Linked DNA regions of Homo sapiens. The protein of the gene in region 2 interacts with the protein of the main gene of each other region in a pairwise test. Each region holds a gene or a part of one and is shown on either strand. Other genes may lie near its edges.

Region 1 (7,024 bases), on a different chromosome or scaffold from region 2:
ATCTCCATGGCCATCCCACTTATGGGCACCCCCCATGACCCTCCAAGTGTTAGAGTCCTTCTCCTGAATGCTCTGCGAGTCATACCTCTCACCTGCACGGCGACTGCCCTCACAAACCTCAGATCAGGCCTGCAACAGGGGCGGGACCTGGATTCTTACTTTTCTTTCACACTTGAGGAAAGCAGATAGAAGAGGATGCTCTCTGCATGGATTCATGAGAGGGAGGCCAAAATCTCCCCCTACCATCCCTGTCTCCCCTGTCATATATCCCTCCTACTGTCACTGTGTCTTGACAGCAAACTGTTAGAATCATTTAGGGCAGGGCTTTTCTCAACCTCCTGGGGATCTTGTTAGAACGCAGCTTCTGGCACAGGAAGTCTAGAGTGGGGCCTGGGATTTTGCATGTCTAATCAGATCTCAGGGGGACTCCAATGTGGCCAGTCCAGGGACAAGAGTTTGAGTAGCAAGGCTTTAGGGTGTTTTTGCACAGAATGATAGAGCTGGAAATGGTCTCAGAGGCCTTCCAGCCTCCTGAAATCCGGGCTGAGGTGTACACCCCACCACAGCATAATCACTTCCTCTCCTTTGACTTAAGCCAGTGGTCCCCATCCCAGTGTCCTGAAACCAGACAGAATCCGGGAAAGCCTCATGATTCCCAGCTTTTCAAAAATCCAGATGGAAATTCTACATTTCCCAGTCATAAACCTGTAACTATAGGTTTCTTTGCTCGGGAATACAATTACTTCCACTCAGCACACAGCAGGTCTTATCTCTGCTGATCAGGAGTGTGGACTTACAGCTCTAGCCAGCTTTGATGACTTAATTTACAAAATGGCAAAACAAATAAATCAATTCTTAATGAATACTGTTTGTTTGATATACAGAACCTTTCAAAGCAGAAGGTGGGAATGATGAAAGGGGATAAATAATGAAAGGAATCCTTGGTAATGAAATGGGTGGGAGCCGTGAGTCCTCCACCCACCACCCTCACCCCAGGCCTCTGACATGGAAATGAGTTGCCTGGGAGAGGTGTTGGATTAACTCCTTCTTATCTATCATCATCCAGGCTCCAAAATTGGTTTGCTGGGTAGGCAGGTGGACCTGGGAGGGAAGGGCTTCTGCAGGCCTTTCATAGAAGGTGCTTGGAGGCAGGGGCAGGTGCATCAGGATGACACTGGACCCTGGAGGGAAATGGAAGAGACAAGGTGGACCAAAGCAAGCACCACCATCGAAGGTGGGCTCTGGGACTGCTCAAGGCCCAGCTCTACTTCCCACGGTTTCCCTGGACTGGAGCTGGATACAGCTGTAACCACAGGTCTTTTTGCCCTTGAATACTTGCAAAATTCCCAGTCCTTTAGTCGAACAGGAATCATTAACATAAATCTATTTCCCTTCCTTCCTTCATTCCCGGGGGAAGAGGCTCTTCCTTTCCCATCAAGCCCTTGGTTAATGTTAGCAGATTTTGATATGATGATAACTAACATATATTAGTGGTTTCTGTATGCCAGACACTGTGCTAAGCCCTCCACACTCATTATTTCATTTGATCCTGACAACGACCCTTTTCTTGGTATTCCCATTTTACAGATGAGGACACTGAGGCTCAGAGAGTTTTAAGTCACTAAACCCAGAGTCACATAGCTAGTAAGTGAAGGGACAGGGATTTGAACAAGGCAATCTGACAGTAGAGACAGAACTTTAAAAAATTACCCCACACGTGGGTCTGACACCATCAAAAATATCACCTGTTGTTCAGCCTAGAAATCTTCTGTTAAACCCCATTATTAAGTGAACAATCACTCCCTAAGTTATCTGAATAGAAATGAAAGGCTAGTTCCAACACAAGACCCCATGTAGATCTCGCCTGGTGCCACATTCACTAAAAACTTCAACTCAGAACCAAGACTCACTGCTTGCAGGGAAGCTGGGGAGATTTAGAACAGGGAATCAGAGAAGACCTCCCCAGTCCTGAGGAGCAGAAAGTATGACGAGAGAGGCTGCGAGACATCTTTGTGGAAGTTATCTCAGGAAATGAGAATCAGAGCAGGCCTCCATGGAGACCAAGGCGAGCTCTGATGACCTGATTATCTTGAGAATCAATAGCAAGGAAGATCAGGATCGAGAAGTCAGCTCTGGTTATAAAAGGGTGCACTCAGCATGGGCGGGTGCAGTCCTGCCTTTGTGTGACATACCGTGACATTGGTGATGAGTGGCGGAGAGGCATAGGTCAACACTGAGGAGGGCCCCACCACCGTGTAGCTGGGGCACACGGGCTGCACATACATGTCAGCTGAGTAGGGGCAGCTGACAGCTTCATGGGGCACATACTCGGTGTAAGGTGTCCATGGGGCCAGGGGCTGCAGGGTGGCCGGGGTGGGCTGGGAGAGCCAGCCGGCACACAGGGCAGCCTCCTCTGTCACTGCAGACACAGAACCTTCCATGTCCAGGCAGGAAGGACCTGTGGGAAGAAGGAAATTACAGAACTTCAGATGCCACCCAGATGAGAGGCCTGGGGGCCACCAGGGCTACGGGGCACTCTTACCCACTGTGGTGTAGGTCGCCAGGGGCTGATGGGGCAGCACCACCTAGAGGGGAGAGGAGAAGACCAGGGTCAATGTTTAGCCCTCGTCAACCGGCCCTGTGCAGAGAACTTGCCCAGAGGGCCTCAGGGCAGGAGAATAGAAGATAGGAATCTCTCTGGTTAGAACAAAACATCCCACCCCGTATCCCAACCATCACCACCTACACTTGAGAGATTTGCGTTTCTATTTAGCAGGAAGTCTGTGCGCTCAGGGAGCTGGTGTCTTCTTCTTCTCAGGGGGGGCCCCCAACTCACACCAGGGTATGCAAGTCATTCGCTCACTCAGGCCTTGACAGTAGCTGTGTTCGGTGGGCCAGCTGAGCCGGCCCTGATCCCTCATCCCAGTTGCTCCACCCTAGCTCTATCCCTGGCAGCCTCCACCAAGGGACCTGCGCTCCTTCCTGCCTGATCCTTTTGGTCACCTCCCAAGCCATCTGCCTGCGCGCACACACATTCTCACACAAACACACACACTCTCTCACACACGTACTCTCTCACACACTCTCACACTCTCACACTCACACTCTCACACACTCACACACTCTCTCACACACACTCCCTCACACACATACTCTCTCACACACACGCTCACACTCTCACACTCACTCTCACACACACACACTCTCTCACACACATACATTCTCACACACTGACACATACACATTCTCTCTCACACTATCACACACTCACACACGCCATCACACACAAACACATACACACTCACATGCATACACTCACACACTCACACTCCCTCACACACACATACACTCTCACACACTGACGCAGATACACATTCTCTCTCACACTATCACACTCTCACACACTCTATCACACACAAACACATACACACACGCATACACATACTCACACACACATACACTCTCACACTATCCCTGACACACACATTCTCTTTCACACACACACACTCACACTCTCACACACACAAACTCTCACCGCCGTAGGTGCAGGTGCTGCCCCACTGCTGGCGTGGCCTCGCTTCCTCCTCAGCAGTTCCTTCACTGGCTCCTTCACACGGACGCCCTGGTATGGCCGGGCCGGGGCTGGGGCTTGCTCCGGAGCTGTGGCTGTGAAAAGCAATGTCCCTGGAGCCCATGGTCCTTCTCAGACGAGCCCCCACCCCAAAGTGCTCATTTCCTCATGGATCTGCCTGCTCCCCTAAGTCGTGCTTGAACACGGAGAACCACGTGACACTTCCTAGAATGCCTCTCCAGTATTGTCACTCCTCCTACTCCCAAACCTTCTGTGGGTCCCCTGCACCCAGACAACGAAGGCCCAGCTCCTTGTCCTAGAATTGGACAGTCTTCAGAATGAGATCCGAACCCATTTTTCTCACCACTTTGCACACTCCCTACTACACAAACCCTGTCTCCAACCAGAAGGTCTGTCTGTGTTCTCTACGTGTTCCTGCGTGTCTCACCTCCTCATCTGTGGTTGAGGTTTTCCGTGGTCAGAATTCCCTCTCACTTCTTCCAACCTCTTGATTCTTGCTGACACAAGACAAATGCAACCCTCCTGCCTGACCCCTGCAGCCTGAGTAATTTCCACATTCTACAGCTTCTCAAACATTTCCAGATCTGATTAGTATTCATCATAGGTGGCAGTAGAGGACAGCCATAAGAGCAGGGACTCTGAGCCAGATAGCACAGGCCTCAAATCCTGCCCCTGCCACCACCTTCCTGTGTGATCCTGGGCAAGTTACTAAACCTCTCTGTGCCTCTTAATCTTCAGTTTCTTTATCAAAGGAATATTGAGAGAAGTCACTTGATGTGGGAAATTGGTAGAACAGTATATGCCTCAAATAAATTCAGGTACAGGGTAGGCATTCAAAAAAATTCAGTCTATTATGTAATAGTTATTCTTTTTGATGGAAGTGTCTTATACCCACAACTAGATTATAAACGTCTCAAGGTGAGTTATTGTACCTTATTTCTCTATGTCTTCCCAGTGGCATGCCCATGCGTTTTAAGCTCAGTTGATACTTATTGATTAATCGATTGGGTGATTCTTTAAGACATGCTGCCATTTGTCTTCCCTTCACCTCTCCTACACCTTTAGGATTGAGGCAAGTGGCTCCCAGGTTCTCAGTGACTTTCAGGGCATGGGACAATTACCCAAGGGTGATCCTTGTACCCTGGGGCCAGACAGTGTCCACCTGCTGCTGAGGGAAGGTTTCCTTCCCCTCTTGCCATCAAAGCCAGGAAACCAAAGCATTGACCCAAATAAGAGCCAGTGCATAGGGCCCTTCCTGGCCTGGGAGAGCAACTGAAAAGCAGCCGTGGCTGGGAAGCAACAAGCTGCCCACCTAGACAGCCTGTGGCCTAGGGATCCTGGGCTCTCAGAGAGCAGGCCTGGGTCAGCCAAGAAACACTAGACCTTAGGACTTCCACAGGGAGCCCATTATTATCCACCGATAAGGGCCCCAGGGACCTGGGCTCTGAATCAAAGTCCCGGAAGCCTAGGTATCTGTTAAACCCGGATCTGCAGCACTGCCCTGGTTGAACTTTGCTCAGTAAATACCCAGCTGATAAGGTCCCATGCCTGACTCGGCACCAGACCTCCCTCCAGGCTCCAGCCACGAGCAAGGCCTGGCCTTGAAGCCCAGAAGGCAGAGAGAAGCTTGGGCAGAGGCAACAGGAAGTGGGAAATGAGTCCCAGGGGCAGATGTTGGGGGTCAGGAATCCCAGTATCTCAGGTGGACTTTAGACCCATCCTCCAAGGTCCCTCAGCTGGCCAGGTAGCAAATCAACCAGGAAATGATGCAATATACAGGTACAGGTCCTGCTCCAGGAAAGTCTGATTCTAGGGGGCTGATATAGGCCTAGGAATCTGTATGTATAAAAATCTCTCTTGGGAGGCTGAGGTGAGTGGATCACAAGGTCAGGAGATTAAGACCATCCTGACCAACATGGTGAAAGCCCATATTTACTGAAATACAAAAAATTAGCCAGATGTGGTGGCAGGCACCTGTAATCCCAGTTACTTGGGAGGCTGACTCAGGGGAATGGCTTGAACCTGGGAGGTGGAGGTTGCAGTGAGCTGAGATCACACCATTGCACTCCAGCCTGGCAACAGAGAGAGACTCTGTCTCAAAAAAAAAAAAAAAAAATCTGTCCAGTATTTCTGAAAATATACTGGGATTACAACTGCTGATAATCCATTCCTAATTTAACATAAGAATCTCCCGATAACATCCCAATAGGAGATTCATTATCCTTATTTTAACTTCCCCTGTCTGAACAAGAGATCTCTACTGGTATTCATTCATTTTTTCAAATATTTCTAGTGCCTAGGAGTACAGCACTGCACAGGACCCATGGAGCCCCCGCCCACGTGGATCTTGCAGTCTAACGGGGAAGACAAGCAACAAAAGTTACCAGCAGATGAATGTGTCACAACTTGTGAAATTCAGGCTGCTATAGGAGTGTCTAGCAGGGGAACCAGCCTGGTTCTGTGCCCCGGGGCCACCTGTGCGCCTCCACCTTTGCTCTGAACACCAATGACAGTAGACTTGAGAACCACACATACCTGTATTCAAATCTGGGCTGTCACTTACTGGTGGAAAGTTCTTAGATTTATTTAATGTCTCTGGGCTTCAATTTCCTCATTTGTAAAACGGGAATAATAATTCTTCTCTCACACAGTGGTTGTGAGGATTAACCAAAATAATACATGGGGAGCTCCAAAGGCCATGTCTGGCATAGGGTAGATGCTCAATACATGTGGTTTTAATTATCTTCCTTCTGGCCATTTCCACCTTCCTTTCGGGGGGATATTATCATGTCAGACAGCTCTTCCTCCTACTGAGGCTAACTTATGGTAACACATGCCATATTTCCCTCCATTACCTTCTAATGAAACTCACATTTCTTAGTCCATTTACAGCTGTCTCATCTATAAAGTGAAGATCATAATGGTATGTATGTTGTAGGGTAATTTAAGATTTGCATGTGAAGTGCTTGGAATAGAGTTTGGCACAGAGCATTTAATACATGTGAGCTCCGATTATCATGAGTATTAGTAGTAATATTCCCTTCCGAAATCTGAGGACAGATACCAGGTGTCCCCCTAGGTCTGAAGGGACTTCTCATTCCTTCAGCTATTTCTAAATGACATGGTTTTAGTCTCCCCACCTTCCTTCTGGGTGAGTCACTCTTGCACAAGTTCCATTTGCCACTTTCCCTACTGCTGGGTGGTGCCCAGCGATGACCACAGGCCCCAGGTACAATCTGACGTGTCAGCGAACAGGGCACCTGCCCTGCCACACTCAACTCACTCTTTCTCAGGGTCACCCCATGGCCACGTCAGCATTTTTGGTTTTAATCTTTATGAGTACATAGTCAGTGTATATATTTATGGGGTACACAAGATATTTGGATACGGGCATGCAATGCACACTCATCACATCAGGGTAAATAAAGCACC
Region 2 (7,024 bases):
TATCACCTGCCTCTCAGCCCCAATTTCTCCATCTGTCATAGGGCATGGTGACCTTGCCCCACTGACCTCATGGGGTGATGGGGGGCGGGGAAATGGAGTCACGTGGACATGCTGTGGCGACAGCACAAAGAGGAACACTGAGCTAAGCAGAGAACGGATGCTGGCAAGGGCTGAGCTGGGGGCTGGGGCTCCAGGATGACTCGGGCTAAGAGCTCATGGGTGTCATCATCATTACTGTCACTCCGGAAGCTGGATGGGGTTGGTGTGGGTCTTGCCAAGGTGGGGGTGGGGGCGATGGTGCATGCTATGGGTCAGTCCCTTCTGAACTTCACTAATTTAAGCTTCAGCTCCACTTTCTGAGGTCAATTCTATGATCTTCATTTTACAGATGAGGGAACTGAGGCATGGAGAGATTAAGTAATTTGCCCAAGGTCACAGAGCTGGGACCAGAATCCAGACAGCTGGACTCTACGGGCTGAAGCCTCTGGCTAGAAAGCTGCAGGAGTGGGGATGGTGGGTGGAGAGGCTGGGGACCCTGGTGGGGGTTGGGGACCCTGAGGAGGACCCTGATGGAGGGTGGAGACCCTGTCAGAGAGGGGACCCTGGTGAGGTGGGGACCCAGGAGGGGGTTGAGGACACTGGGGAGGTGGGGACCGTGGTGGAGGATGGGGACCCTGTTGGGATGGGGACCCTGGGGAGGTGGGGACCCAGGAAGGGGTTGGGGACCCTGGGGAGATGAGAACTCAGGCGGGGACTGGGGACCCTGGTGGAGGGTGGGGGCCCTGTTGGGGTGGGGACCCTGGGATGTGGGGCCTTGGGAGGCACCCTGGGTGCTCACCTTGCAGCAGGCACAGTACTTCCAGCATAGCAGCAGTAGCAGGGCCAGGAGCGGCAGGAGGAGGAGGAGCAGGGGGATGAGCCACCAGAAGGAGCCCGGAGGGCAGTCTGGAGAGGAGGAGGCAGGGGGAGGTGGTGCCTGTCCTCCCCACCGAGCTCTGGCCACACGCCCCCTCCCTGCGCCCGGCCCCACCAGCTCACCCTTCTTCTTGTGCACCAGGACAGTGCTGTTGGGCCCAGGGGCGCCGTCACCTTCCATGGTGTAGCTGTAGGTGCAGTCGTCATCCTCGTCCCGGAAGGAGCAGCGCACCACCACCTCCTCGGCTGTACCCACAGCCAGTCAGCAGGGCACCCCAGCCACACCCCTCCGCCCCAGAGGACCCAGGGTCTGGTGAGGGGGCCCCTACTCTGCGATCTGCCTCACCCACGGCAGGGCCTCCTGGGGAAGAGTGGAAGTCCTTGCAAAGCCGTGCTCTCACCAGGCACAGGAACGGGTGTGGTGGGGGCTCCCCTGCTCAGGAGCATCAGAGCCTAGAAACCTACCTCCCCCACTTCCCTGACCTGGACATCACCCAGGAACTCAGGGTCCAGAAAACGTATCTGATCTCGAGGAGGGGAGGCTGCGTGTCTCCACAGCGTGACCATGTACCCCTGCTGGGTGCATGCCCCTGCCCAAGTCAGGTGCCTCCCACCAAGACTCTTGGTCCCTTCCTGGGCCAGACTGTGTCCCACCGCCTGGGTTCTGTGCCTCCTGCTCAGGCTTTTACCCTTTTCTGGGATTCGGTGTCCTCTATCTGGGTTCTGTGGTCCCTCCCAGCTCTGGAGTTCCTGTCCGGACTGTGTGACCTTAGCCCAGACTGCAAGCCCCCGTCCAGGTGATGACACCCTTGCCCCGTTGGATGCCCGCTGCCTAGGCTCTCAGCAACCCCAACCCTCAGCCCCTGCCCCTACCTCTCTTAAGCTCGTCCACCATCTTGACCTTGAAGTTGCATTCCTCACACGTGCGCCCCTTCTTCTCGCCGGTGCCCCACGCCTGGCACTGCACGCAGGAGCGTAGGTCCTCGCAGAGGCCCGGGTGGATCTTGGCGGGGAAAGGCGGGGCAGACAGGCACTGTGTTGGGTGGGCCTCTGCCAGACCCCCGCTCCCCAAACCTCTTGCCCTTGGCCAGCTCCTGTGGCATCAGGCTTAGCCCCTCCTGCCCACACTGCCCTGTGCCTGCCCTGTTCCCACGCCCACACCTCGTAGGTCTTAGCCTCACCGCCGAGTAGTTGATCTCGCAGATGGTGTCCGTGTAGAGCGACTGCTGGTGGCAGTGGCAGCGGCCACACTCACAGTGGCCACGTCCATTACAGATGCCCTGGGGTAGGAGGGGGCACCAGTGAGCCAGCTGTGCCCCATCCCTGCCTGCTCCCTCTCCTCTCTCCATAGGGTTCTCTCTGGAGAGGGTGGGTGGTGCTGACAGACACTGTCTGTCTTATGCCCAGGCCTACCCCATTGCTGTCGATGCAGGTGGCATTGCTGAGGGGACAGTCACAGCTTGGGCCTGTCCAACCAGGCTCACACACACACTGGCCCATGGAGCAGCGTCCTCGGTCTGCAGAGAGGGACAAGGAAGGGAGATGAGAGCTACATCTGTGCCTGTAGTCCAGGCTGCCCACCTGGCAGGGAGGGCCTGTGGGAACAGAGCTGTGGGAGCCAGGGTGCCGCTAGCCTGGGGTAGAAGTCATCTCTTCCTCACTTTCCTGGAATCTCCTTCCCTCCATCTCTGCCTCCATCCTACCTACCTTCCACTCTGCAGCCTGAGTAATTATCTCAAAACAAATCCAATCATGTGGCTCCTGCTCCCCTGGCTAAGAACCTCTAATGGGTCCCTGCCAATGCAATAAGGTCAGAAAAAGAAATAAGATGTATAAGCATTAGAAGGTAAGAAATAAGTCCAGGCAAGGTGGCTCACGCCTGTAATCCCAGCACTTTGGGAGGCTGAGGCGGGCAGATCACAAGGTCAAGAGACTGAGACCATCCTGGCCAACATGGAGAAACCTCGTCTCTACTAAAAATACAAAAATTAGCTGGTCATGGTGGCGCATGCCTGTAGTCCCAGTTACTCAGGAGGCTGAGGCAGGAGAATCACTTGAACCCGGGAGGTAGAGGTTGCAGTGAGCCGAGATCACGCCACTGCACTCCAGCCTGGTGACAGAGCAAGACTCCGTCTCAAAAAAAAAAAAAAAAAAAGAAAAGAAAAAAGAAATAAAACTGTCAGCCGGGCGTGGTGGCTCACACCTGTAATCCCACACTTTGGGAGGCCGAGGCGGGAGGATCACTTGAGCTCAGGAGTTCAAGACCAGCCTGGCCAACATGGTGAAACTCTATTTCCACTAAAAATACAAAAATTAGCTGGGCTTGGTGGTGGGCCCCTGTAATCCCAGCTTCTTGGGAGGCTGAGGCAGGAGAATTGCTTGAACCTGGGAGGCAGAGGTTGTAGTGAGCTGAGATCATGCCACTGCACTCTAGCCTGGGTGACAGAGCAAGACTCCGTCTCAAAAATCAATCAATCAATCAATCAATAAAATTGTCTTTATTTGCAAGTGTGAGGAACATGTCACAAAGTATCCAGAAGAATCTACAGACAAATTATTAGATTTCATAAGTGCGTTTAGCAAGGTGACTAGATACAAGGTTAATATGCAAATAGTTAGAAAATGAAAGTAAAACCTCCAGTGACCCCCTTTTGTCCAAAGGATGAAGTCCTGCTCTGGACTAGAACCGAAGCCCTTTGTACTCTGGCCCTGCCTCCTTCCCCAGAGGCACCTTCCTCCCTTCCTCTCTCATACCTCCCTCTGTGCCACTTGTCTGCCTTTCTCCAGTGGTGCCCAGTTCTCTCTTCTGTTTCTCTGAGCACACTCAGGGACAGACAGTCGAAGAGAAGAAATGGTGAACAAAAGCAAGAACAGAAGAAAGAGTAGAAAAGCAGGGGCTTGGAAAGTATACAGTGAGGGCTTCATAAGTATTTGATGAGTAGATTTTCATTCATCCTCCTCCATTCAACTACCAATCCTTCCCTATGTCCCCTTGTCTGAGTTCTGTGATCCTGCCCAGCTCTGATGTTCCTGGCCAGACTGTATGCCTATGGCCTGGACCCATGGGAATACAGAGGAAGCTCCAGGCCTTCCAGGTAGAAATTTAGCATCTTTGGGCCGGGCTCAGTGGCTCACACCTGTAATCCCAGGTGTGATTACAGATGTGTACTTTGGGAGGCTGAGGCGGGCAGATCACCTGAGGTCAGGAGTTCGAGACCAGCCTGGCCAACATGGTGAAACCCTGTCTCTACTAAAAATACAAAATTAGCTGGGCATGGTGGTGCATGCCTATAGTCCCACCTACTAGGGAGGCTGAGGCAGGAGAATCGCCTGAACCCAGGAGGCAGAGGTTGCAGTGAGCCAAGATTGTGCTATTGCACTCCAGCCTGGGCGACAAGAGTGAAACTCTGTCTCAAAAAAAAAAAAAAAAAAAAAAAAAACAGCAGCAACAACAACAAAAAACCCACAGAAATTTAGCATCTTTGGAGAGAGGAAAGATCATAATGCCATATACCTGCCAGCCATTGGAGGGCTGAGCTGGGTGGCACCCACTCTAATGAGATAGGGGTGTGGAGAAGTGGGGTGGGCATAGAACTGAACTTCCAGAGAGAACCTCAGGGGAGTTGGAATCTTAAAACCAGGGGAAAGTCCTGCCAACAGTGACCTTGGGCATGGACGTTACAGATGAGGGAAGTCAGGCCCAGGTTGGGGCAGGACTCAGGGGCGGCCCTCAGGGCATCCAGAGTGGGCTGGGCCTGAACTTGGGGATTCTGATTCCAAGTCTGGCTCTCCCAACCTGGGTCCTGACGGGAAAGTCATGCTTGCTGTCCACTCCCTACCCCGCCATCAGCATTGGCCGCAGTTGTTGTGCTCACCATTGCAGAGGAACCCGGAAGTGCGGGGACACTGGAAGTTGTCATACTCGCAGAACTGACCCTCGTAGCGGCCTTCGCCGTAGCACACACAGTGCCCGCACTGGCACTCCCCACGGCCGGAGCACGGCTTGTCCTCGCCCTCCCGCAGGCAGGGCTGAATGTCACTCAGAGAGCCGGTGGAGCAGTTGCAGGTCTGGCCACTCCTGAAGGAGGAACTGGTCATTCCCCGAAACAGCCCAGGAGGAAAGCTGGGGCTTTTGCTGTCCCATTTAATTTAATTTAATTTAATTATTTTATTTTTTTTTTTGAGACGGAGTCTCGCCTTGTCGCCCAGGCTGGAGTGCAGTGGCGCGATCTTGGCTCACTGCAAGCTCTGCCTCTTGGGTTCACGCCATTCTCCTGCCTCAGCCTCCTGAGTAGCTGGGACTACAGGCACCCGCCACTACGCCCGGCTAATTTTTTGTATTTTTAGTAGACGGGGTTTCACCATGTTAGCCAGGATGGTCTCGATCTCCTGACCTTGTGATCCGCCCACCTCGGCCTCCCAAAGTGCTGAAATTACAGGCGTAAGCCACCGCGCCTGGCCTATTTTATTTTATTTTTTTTCAAGACAGAGTTTCGCTCTTCTTGCCCAGGCTGGAGTGCAGTGGCGCGATCTCAGCTCACGGCAACCTCCGCCTTCTAGGTGCAAGCAATTCTGCCTCAGCCTCCCGAGTAGCTGGGATTACAGGCATGCACCACCACGCCCAGCTACTTTTTTGTATTTTTAGTAGAGATGGGATTTCACCATGTTGGCCAGGCTGGTCTTGAACTCCTGACCTCAGGTGATCCACCCACCTCGGCCTCCCAAAGTGCTGGGATTACAGGTGTGAGCCACCTCGCCTGGCCTGCTGTCCCATTTTACAGATGAGGAAACTGAGGCTCTGAGAGGGCCGAGGCAGCTCCCAGTCATGCAGACAGAAGTGGCTGAGCTGAGACCTAAACCCCAGTGCCCTGTCATGTCACCCCTTCCAGTGTCCTTTCCCCACTGCTCTGCCTCAAGTTGTGGCAAGCTCGCCCAGTGTCCTGAAGCTAAAGCCCTTACTGCCGTGCATTTACGAGCTCTCTTCTGATCAGGCAATATGACACAGGACTCAGAATACCAAAGGCATGGAGCAAAAAGGAAGCCTCGTGTGCCTGTCCCCCAAGATCCAGACCCCAGCCCCAACAGCCAACCCCGTCTCAATCCTCACACCTCTTTCTAGAGACAGCCCATATATCTCTGTATTTCAAAGTGCTTTGACCTGGGTTTGACCAACAACTGGGTGTGCCCCGCCCTTAGCCGTTTCTTTGATTGCCGCCCCACCCCCAGCCAGGTGTACAAGGTGCACCCAGGGCCAGGCCCCTGCAGGAGCCCAGCTTTCCCATCAGGGGCCACTGGTGTCCTGGGTGCCCAACTCCCTTCCCCACTCACCAGCCCTCGCTGCACACACACTGTCCGCACACGAAGTCTCCGTTGAAGCTGCAGCGAGCTGACCGCACCTCTTTTTGCTGGAATGAGAGAGACCATGGTGGGGTGCGTCGGGGGAGCAGGACCGGGGCCACTGGACACTTCCGCTCTCCTGTGTGCCTCGGGAAACCCCACAAGGGATATGGGGCACAGGAGTCCTGCTTCATTCCTCAGGGTCCCTGGGTGCTTGGCTCAGCTCTCCCCTCCCGCCCTGCGGGGCTGCGTTGTACCAGCTCGCAGGTGCACACATCACAGATGATGCCCGCGTCCATCTTGAGGCCGTCGGAGAAGGAAGGTTTCAGATGGATGTTGCCCTTCTGGTCCTCCGGCAGCTGGCACACGTGCGTCCCATCCACGTGCTCAAGGGCCCGCAGCTGCACCTGGTATATACCCTGCAGGGGCCCCGTGGTCAGCCAAGGCAGGCCCAGCCCCAAGGACCAGGGGGCCATCGATGCCTGAAGGCCCTCGGCCCCCAAGTTCCTAGGAGATGTCTGGATCCCTGAAATGAGCTCCTGCTCACCTCCCTCAGGGCTGGAAACTCCCTCCTTCCCAGCGCAGTCACAATCATAGCGACAATGACAGTGGCCAGGGCCTCTGGGCTTCGTGACACTAACCCATTTACTGCCCCAGCAAGCCTCCGGGCTCGACGCTTGCATGCCGAGGAAACCAACAAGCAGAGGAGCAACCTAGGCTCATCCGAGCGGCTAGGCCCAGGGATCTGCACCCAGGCCTGCCTGACTCCAGG
Region 3 (7,024 bases), on a different chromosome or scaffold from region 2:
AGAATGTTGACCTTGTAAGCGATGCCGGCCAGCAGGTCGCAGAGAGCCAGGTTGCCAATGAAAAAGTACATGCGGTTGTGAAATTTATTGTTTTTCCAGATGGCAATCAAAACCATCAGGTTCTCCAAGACGATGAAGCTGCAGATGACCAAGAAGAGCACGGTGGTGAGCGTGCTGCCCTCGGAGGCCTCCTTCAGCCTGCCCGCCAACTTCCCCACGTACTGGTAATGCTCCCGCAGGGTCTCGTTCCCCCGCACCGGCTGGAGACGCGGCGGGAGGGCAGTTGCCATCACTTGGCATTCACAGACGATTAGCTCCAAAATCCACGAGAGGGCGCCCCAGGAACATTCATTTCAAAGGGAAGCGGGGCTGAGGTTCCGGCTTCATTCAGCAAGGCGTGCAGGCCAGACTCCAGCGAGGGCGTTGAAAAAGGGCTCCTGCCAACAGATAAAAAGAGGGAGCGACCATTGATAAAACGATCGCCGCCTAAGGGGCCACGGCAACGCTGTTGGAGAAAGGCATGAAAAACGTGGAAGTACTGGGATGGCTAGCCACGTCAGGCTGCAGAGAGGGTCTTTAGACACAGGCTAAATTCCTAAGTGATTGGGGGACACCATGGGAAGCGATTTGGTGTCTGGAGTTGCCGGGAAGGGAAATTCAGTGCATGAATTATTGAATCCTGTAACAAAGATACACAGACCCAAGTACAGCTTCCATCTGGAAATCTCCAGGCACTAGAAAATGCTAACTAGTCCTCATCTAGGGCATGGGAGCTGGTGACCCATTATCCCAGTTACTCAGGGAAAAGCAGGATTTTCTCAGGACCAAAAAGCAGGATGGAATCTGAATGATGCCGGTTCAATTTCTAAAACCTCCCTGGTGAGTTTTACAGTGACATCGTGGGAAGATCCCGCACTTCCCAGATGGCATCCCCTGGATCCAGGCCCAGAAATCAGGTCTGTATGGGCTGTAGGTCGGCCTGGCAGAGAGCCCTGAGGCCTGACCATGCAGCCATCGAGGGACCAACAGTGCATGTCTGGGCAGTGCCCATGCAGACACCGCACTCGTGAGCAGTGAGTCCAGAGCCCAGCGAAGACAGAACATCAACCTGCAAAAACGGGACCCAAGTCTACAGATGATAAAGGAAGGACAGGAAAGCAGTGACAATCACACTGACTGAGTCTGGCTTGAAATTCAGAGCCCTGAATATCAAATAGAGCATGGGTGCATGTGAGCCAACAGAAAAGTGGCACATTTGGGAACACAGCGAGAGAGGGAAAGTGGTGAGTGAAGGCCTCAATGGATTCTGAATTCCAAACTCTTCCCCCACGAGACCTCAAACACTTGCACTCAACCACACCTGGTAATATCGATCAGCCTTCTGTGATGTTGATGACGCCACACACCCAACTATCAAGGTAGAAACCGCTTTCAGTGGACTCACTTATTTTATTTTATTTTTTATTTTTATTAAAAAAAATTTTCTTTTGAGACACAGTGTTGCTCTGTCACCCAGGCTGGAATGCAGTGGTGCGATCTCGGCTCATTGCAACCACTGCCTCCTGGGTTCAAGTGCTTCTGCTGCCTCAGCCTCCCAAGTAGCTGGGATTACAGGCACCCGCCACCATGCATGGCTAATTTTTGTATTTTTAGTAGAGACGGGGTTTCACCATGTTGGCCAGGCTGGGCTCGAACTCCTGACCTCAAGTGATCAGCCTGCCTCAGCCTCCCAAAGTGCTGGGATTACAGGCATGAGACACCGCACCCAGCCATCATTTATTATTTGAGTATTTAAATATGTAATTAAGTTCAAATGAGGCTAATTTAAAAGAGCCTACTGTGTGTATCCAGTGAATTTTTTTTAACTTTTACGATGTTTGAACCACAGCCCTAAATTTGCTTCAGAGACACATGAACAACTCACCAATACTATGGGCTCTGCATTTTAGGGTGTGATTGACTCTGAATCTCATCCATGCATGAGTTTATTCCCAGGTACAAATCAGTCCCTTGAAGATCCAGGGCTTGCCTGGGTGGGGCTGAGAAGCAGAGGTGGCTCCAAATGGTTTCTGTATCCTCGTGACCCTCTGGAGTGCTGAATGCTGTCAAAGCCCTCCTCTCCCTACATCAATTTGGGGGACCTGGATTTTCTGAGATGGCCCCTTGCTTCTTTGCAAAGATTTTTTTTCCAGTGTCCTGGAGCTTGGTGGTGTTGGTTGCTCTGGAAACCCCGGGGGCGGGGGGTTGGCGGGGGGTAGGATGTCTGAGCTGACGTCTGTGCTCTGCCTGGAACTGCCCTGACCCTTCCCAGCTGCCGCCTCCTGAAGTCACAGAGGCCTTGGGTCGAGGTCAGCTGGAATGCCAAGTGCTGGCAGAAAGGCTTATGTGTTGGCCAAGGCCCTCTGCTAACTGCAGAAAGAAAAAGCAGCCAAGTTCCAAGTCCAGGCTGATGATGCAGGATGAGAGGAGGTTGCCTGCCCAGATCTCTCCCATCACTCATGAGCCATGACAGGCAGCGCAGGGCCCGGGGCCTGCCTCCTCGAGCTGTGGCTCACCCATGCCAGCCCTACTTGGCTTCCCATTCACCTGAGAAGAGACCATGTCTTGCCTGTAGGTTCTCCTGGAGGCAAACAGGACAGTCCAGTGGGCAGCCTTCCCCCCAGCCCCTCCCTCTCTACCGTTTCTGAATTTTATTTAAATCTTGCCCATCCTTCAAGCCTCAAGTCAAATTCCACTTGCTCTGTAACATTTTCTGGAATCATGCCAGCCCCTGGTGACTTTTCTCTGAGGCTGCATGCCACTTCTGAAAACGTACTGCAAACTGTCTCTTTAAATGGGGCAATACCACAGTCAGCAGCATTTTCTGAGCATTGAGCTTATCCATTAACACAGGGACTTTCACCATGGGTAAGTTCACAGTACCCTCCCCAGCATCCTGTACACTGATGGGTGCTAAAAAGATACTGTCCTTTTAGTTGTTTTTGTTTGTTTTTTGTTTTGTTTTGTTTTGTTTTTGGGATGGAGTCTCATTCTGTCACCCAGGCTGGAGTGCAGCGGTGCGATCCCGGCTCACCACACCCTCCGCCTCCCCGGTTCAAGCGATTCTTCTGCCTCAGCCTCCTGAGTAGCTGGGACTACAGGCGCCCGCCACCATGCCCGGCTAATATTTGTATTTTTAGTAGAGACGGGGTTTCACCATGTTGGCCAGGCTGGTCTTGAACTCCTGACCTCAAGTGATTGCCTGCCTTGGCCTCCCAAAGTGCTGGGATTACAGGTGTGAACTACCACACCAGGCCTAGTATTGCTTATTATTTCTTTCTTTCTTTATCTGTGAACAGGAACTGGAGAATCACTATTTCTGATTTTCACTTTGCTGGGTTTCCACCCCTGATCAGGGGCCTCTCAGGGACACATGTGCTATGCCCGGCATGCACCCTGGCATGAAGCCGGGTATGAAGACAACCTGGGCCATCAGGCTGTCTCCTGCCACCTCCGGTACCACTGCACAGTGCTGATGGGGACCGCGAGGGCTCTGCCGTTTCCCACACGAACAGCCACTCATGCTCATGGAAAAGGCATGGAGCAAAGGCAGTCTGTGAACAGTGCCCTGTGCCAGCATCCTCCCTCCCATAGCAACTGGGGCCAGAGCCCTCACCATGCTGCCAAATGGATGACCTGCCCGGCTCACATTGCAACCAGAGGGGCCATCACCTGGCAGACAGCCAGCTATCCATGACACCACAGTGTCCTGGTTTATCCTACAGATTGCTGGGATACCCACTCCAGTATGTTGGGTTTCTGTCCCAGAAACCGACAAGCTGCAGACAAACCTTGGTTCCAATGTCAGTGATTCCTGAGGCCCCTTTTCCCCAGCTCACGTAGGGATTCAAGTACAGCTCCATGTTCCTCATCCTTTTAGGTAATACTGGCATGTCGTTATGATTCAGACTGTTCTTGTACTAACTCAGCTTGCCTCCTGTGCCTCAGTTTCCCCCATGACAACCTGACCCTACCATTTTATACATGTCCTGTCTCCTCTGAACCTTCTCCACACCTTTGCTTTTGCCATGCATCCAACAGCCAGATGTGGACTTGCTCCCGGGAATGGAGAGAAGAGGGTGAATAGACCCACGGCTTATACAAAAATTGATCAGAGCAGAAAACAAGCAAACAATTAAAAACTAATAACCAGCAATAAAATAACCCCAATAAACATAGTATAAGATTTGCCAGAGACCCATCAAAATCATGAATCTTGAGGGCAAACATATTTTCCCATTAATGTTTGATTTATCATTTCCCTTATAATTAAATATTCATCCCTCAAGAAGCATATTTGTCCAGAACATCTTTTGTTAAATATGATTCTCTGCATTTTGCATAAGTGGAAGATATCTGGCTGTCTTTGGAATCTAAAAGCTCATTTTCTCTGGATTATCAACATTTACAAAGCAGGCCTCATCCCAAGAGTTAAGTGCTGGGCTAAAGGCCAGATTGATTTTGGATGCGTCTACACATTATTGCGCACGGTTAAAAGCATCTCATGGACAAGAGTTCCCCTCCGCTCCTGAGGGGTACCAGCCACAGACCTCAAGTTTGCTAGAAGAAAGCTCAAAGCCCACCCCGCCCTGAGGCTCCTGGAGTCAGCAAGCCCTACTCAGGGCAAGAGGGGAGTCAGTCACTCTGGCGGATTGGTACTAACACTGCCAGGCACGGCAGGAGTGCTGGGCACTGCAGGCACCAGCAGGCCTGGGAGGCTGACCTGCCCCACCACACAGAGATCAGTGAGACCAGCACCCAGGCCAGCAACAAGATGGGCCGGACCCTGCAGCCTTCCTTGTGCCCCTCCTAGTCACCACCTGTCCCCAAGCATGACCACTACCTGGGATAGGACTCTCCCCTAGGTGAGTTTAGCCTGCTTCTGACCTTCACGTGAATGAAACCCTACAGGATACAATTGTGTCCATTGCTTTCCTCTCCCCATGATGCTTGTACGAGTCATGCACATAGATGCACCTGCATGCTGAATATTCTTGCTCTCATGGTGTGGGTAGATACACTACCCTCTATTCATTCTTGTTTATGGACATGGGGTAATTTCTTCCATGGCCCATGTGTTGATTATCATCAAGTAGCACTGCTGGGATTGATTGAGGATGTTCTCTTGGCGAACACATGTCCATGTTTTCGCAGGTCGATGTTGATTTGTGAGCGGTGTGTTGGTGTCTGAGATGGGCTTTAACCATGACTCGGAGGCACTGGGTTTCTCAGACCCCAGCCAGCCCATCTTGCAAAACTGGTGTGGGGAGAAGGGGCGGCCCCTAACAGAGGGCAAGACTGATGCAGTATTAGTGTTCACTCTTTGCTTTATTCCAAAAGTAAGTGTCCAGAGCTGGCAGTGACATTGTAAATTTGATCGCGGCTTAAATTCCACCTGAACACTTAGAAATAAAGCCAGATGCTGAGACATATGGCTTTTTGCAGACTAGTTTTGCATATATTCAGAGAGCTTGGCACATTACGGAAGACACAGGAGTACAGACAGCTGCAGGGTAGAGACGCTCCTCCTCATTAGCGGTGGTCTTCTAACCAATACAGATGCTGACACTGGGCTGCTCCCACTGCCCACCTCCACGGCACATCCTTGCCTGGTCGTTCCACTCTCTTCCAAGTGCTACACTAACACATCTCCCTGACCACCTGGGAAGACCCCCGCCCACCACCCAGCTCTTCAAGAGACTTAAGTATTTGATTGTCTGCATCTTCAGTCTTTTCATGTTTACTGAGAGACACTGCTTACATCTGAACTTACCTGAGTTCTACTCAATAAAGACCCCATTAGCTAAGGGTTTTCATGTCATCCTCACTAAGCTGGGTTCATCCAGCCTACCTCAAAGCATTTTAATACCAACACATTTTTTTTTTGTCGAGGAGGAATAAGACGCCTTCTGGAAGATGAGTATGCAGTGGATGACCCCAAGTTAGACCCTGCCAAGGTCAGAGGTGCCTACCTTCCCCCAACTTCCAAGGAGAAACATTGCTGGGAGGAGGGTGAGCCAGAGAGAGGAGGCCGGATGGATTCCAGATGTGCTTTCTATACTAGCGATTCGCTTTCTCTACCCATGTCAAGTTGAAAAATAAACAAACTATAAAAGGAAGAAAAAGAGAAAAAATAAAGAAAATGTTTCCACAGTCTGGTCTCCTTCCCAACACCCCCCTTTCTCTCTCCGCATAAAAGATAGGCACAATAAGATAGTAAGATAGCATCTTGGTCAGATGCAGGATGCTATATTTTTAATAGGCATGTACTCCCAGGGAAATTAACTAGTTCATCCTCCAAACTGAATCAAAACACCAAACATATGCCAACAAGCAAAATTTCTTGGAAAGCAAGATGTTTTTTAAAATTTCATTTAAAATAACTTGGAAAGGAAATAATGAGTCGGCCGTTACAAGGCTCCAGCAAAATTCCTTTGCTAATGAGTATTTTCCCTTGCTCTAGATTTCTTGGGTGACCTCGCTCTGCTTTTGGAGACAGTCCATTGCAAAATGCATGCTTCACACACCCAGCTGCACAGGCTTGGCCCATTAATGCAGCTCCCCTGAGAAATAACAACTGTTACAGACAAACCAGGTGAGGGTTTTGTATCTTTTCTCCCTTCTCTTCTTCAAAGCATGCAAGTCAGTGCACTTCCCTGGTTAGACTTACTGCTTCCCGGTGGCTTTTCCCCAAGTCCTTCTCCATCACAAATAAGGCTGGGACATTATGAGCTATCTGGGCATAGTCCAGGGAACCCCAGATATGGAGGCTGTGCCCCAGGAAACTCAGGCCCCGGCCCCGAGCATCTGCCTCCGTGAACACCATCCTGAGCTTCCAGACTTGTGTGTGGGAAGGCAAGTGCGTCTGAGCCAGGAGGTGTTTGACCGCTTTGCCTGTCCATGAGTCTTTTTAAACCTTCTCCATTCTGCTGCTGCTTCATGACAGCATAGGATAAATGATTCTCAAGATTTCCACAGGGATGAA

What was found.
Region 1: the proteins of ITGB4 (region 2) and POU2AF1 interact in binary tests that used the Homo sapiens proteins (3 or more experiments, as listed by UniProt).
Region 3: the proteins of ITGB4 (region 2) and S1PR3 interact in binary tests that used the Homo sapiens proteins (3 or more experiments, as listed by UniProt).

What each region holds. Positions count from the first base shown.
Region 1 is NC_000011.10:111,355,253-111,362,276, forward strand, and holds part of POU2AF1 (POU domain class 2-associating factor 1), read right to left. Parts: intron 4,139-7,024; exon of another isoform or gene 4,020-4,138; intron 3,667-4,019; coding exon 3,536-3,666; intron 2,586-3,535; coding exon 2,543-2,585; intron 2,459-2,542; coding exon 2,193-2,458; intron 1,182-2,192; coding exon of another isoform or gene 1,164-1,181; exon of another isoform or gene 1-1,163. UniProt on the Homo sapiens protein: Transcriptional coactivator that specifically associates with either POU2F1/OCT1 or POU2F2/OCT2. It boosts the POU2F1/OCT1 mediated promoter activity and to a lesser extent, that of POU2F2/OCT2. It recognizes the POU domains of POU2F1/OCT1 and POU2F2/OCT2.
Region 2 is NC_000017.11:75,731,459-75,738,482, reverse strand, and holds part of ITGB4 (integrin beta-4 isoform 1 precursor), read right to left. Parts: intron 6,672-7,024; coding exon 6,510-6,671; intron 6,321-6,509; coding exon 6,244-6,320; intron 4,994-6,243; coding exon 4,791-4,993; intron 2,433-4,790; coding exon 2,329-2,432; intron 2,196-2,328; coding exon 2,097-2,195; intron 1,919-2,096; coding exon 1,789-1,918; intron 1,747-1,788; exon of another isoform or gene 1,262-1,746; intron 1,162-1,261; coding exon 1,039-1,161; intron 946-1,038; coding exon 839-945; intron 1-838. UniProt on the Homo sapiens protein: Integrin alpha-6/beta-4 is a receptor for laminin. Plays a critical structural role in the hemidesmosome of epithelial cells. Is required for the regulation of keratinocyte polarity and motility.
Region 3 is NC_000009.12:88,994,467-89,001,490, reverse strand, and holds part of S1PR3 (sphingosine 1-phosphate receptor 3), read right to left. Parts: exon of another isoform or gene 5,349-7,024; intron 438-5,348; 5' UTR 291-437; coding exon 1-290. UniProt on the Homo sapiens protein: Receptor for the lysosphingolipid sphingosine 1-phosphate (S1P). S1P is a bioactive lysophospholipid that elicits diverse physiological effect on most types of cells and tissues.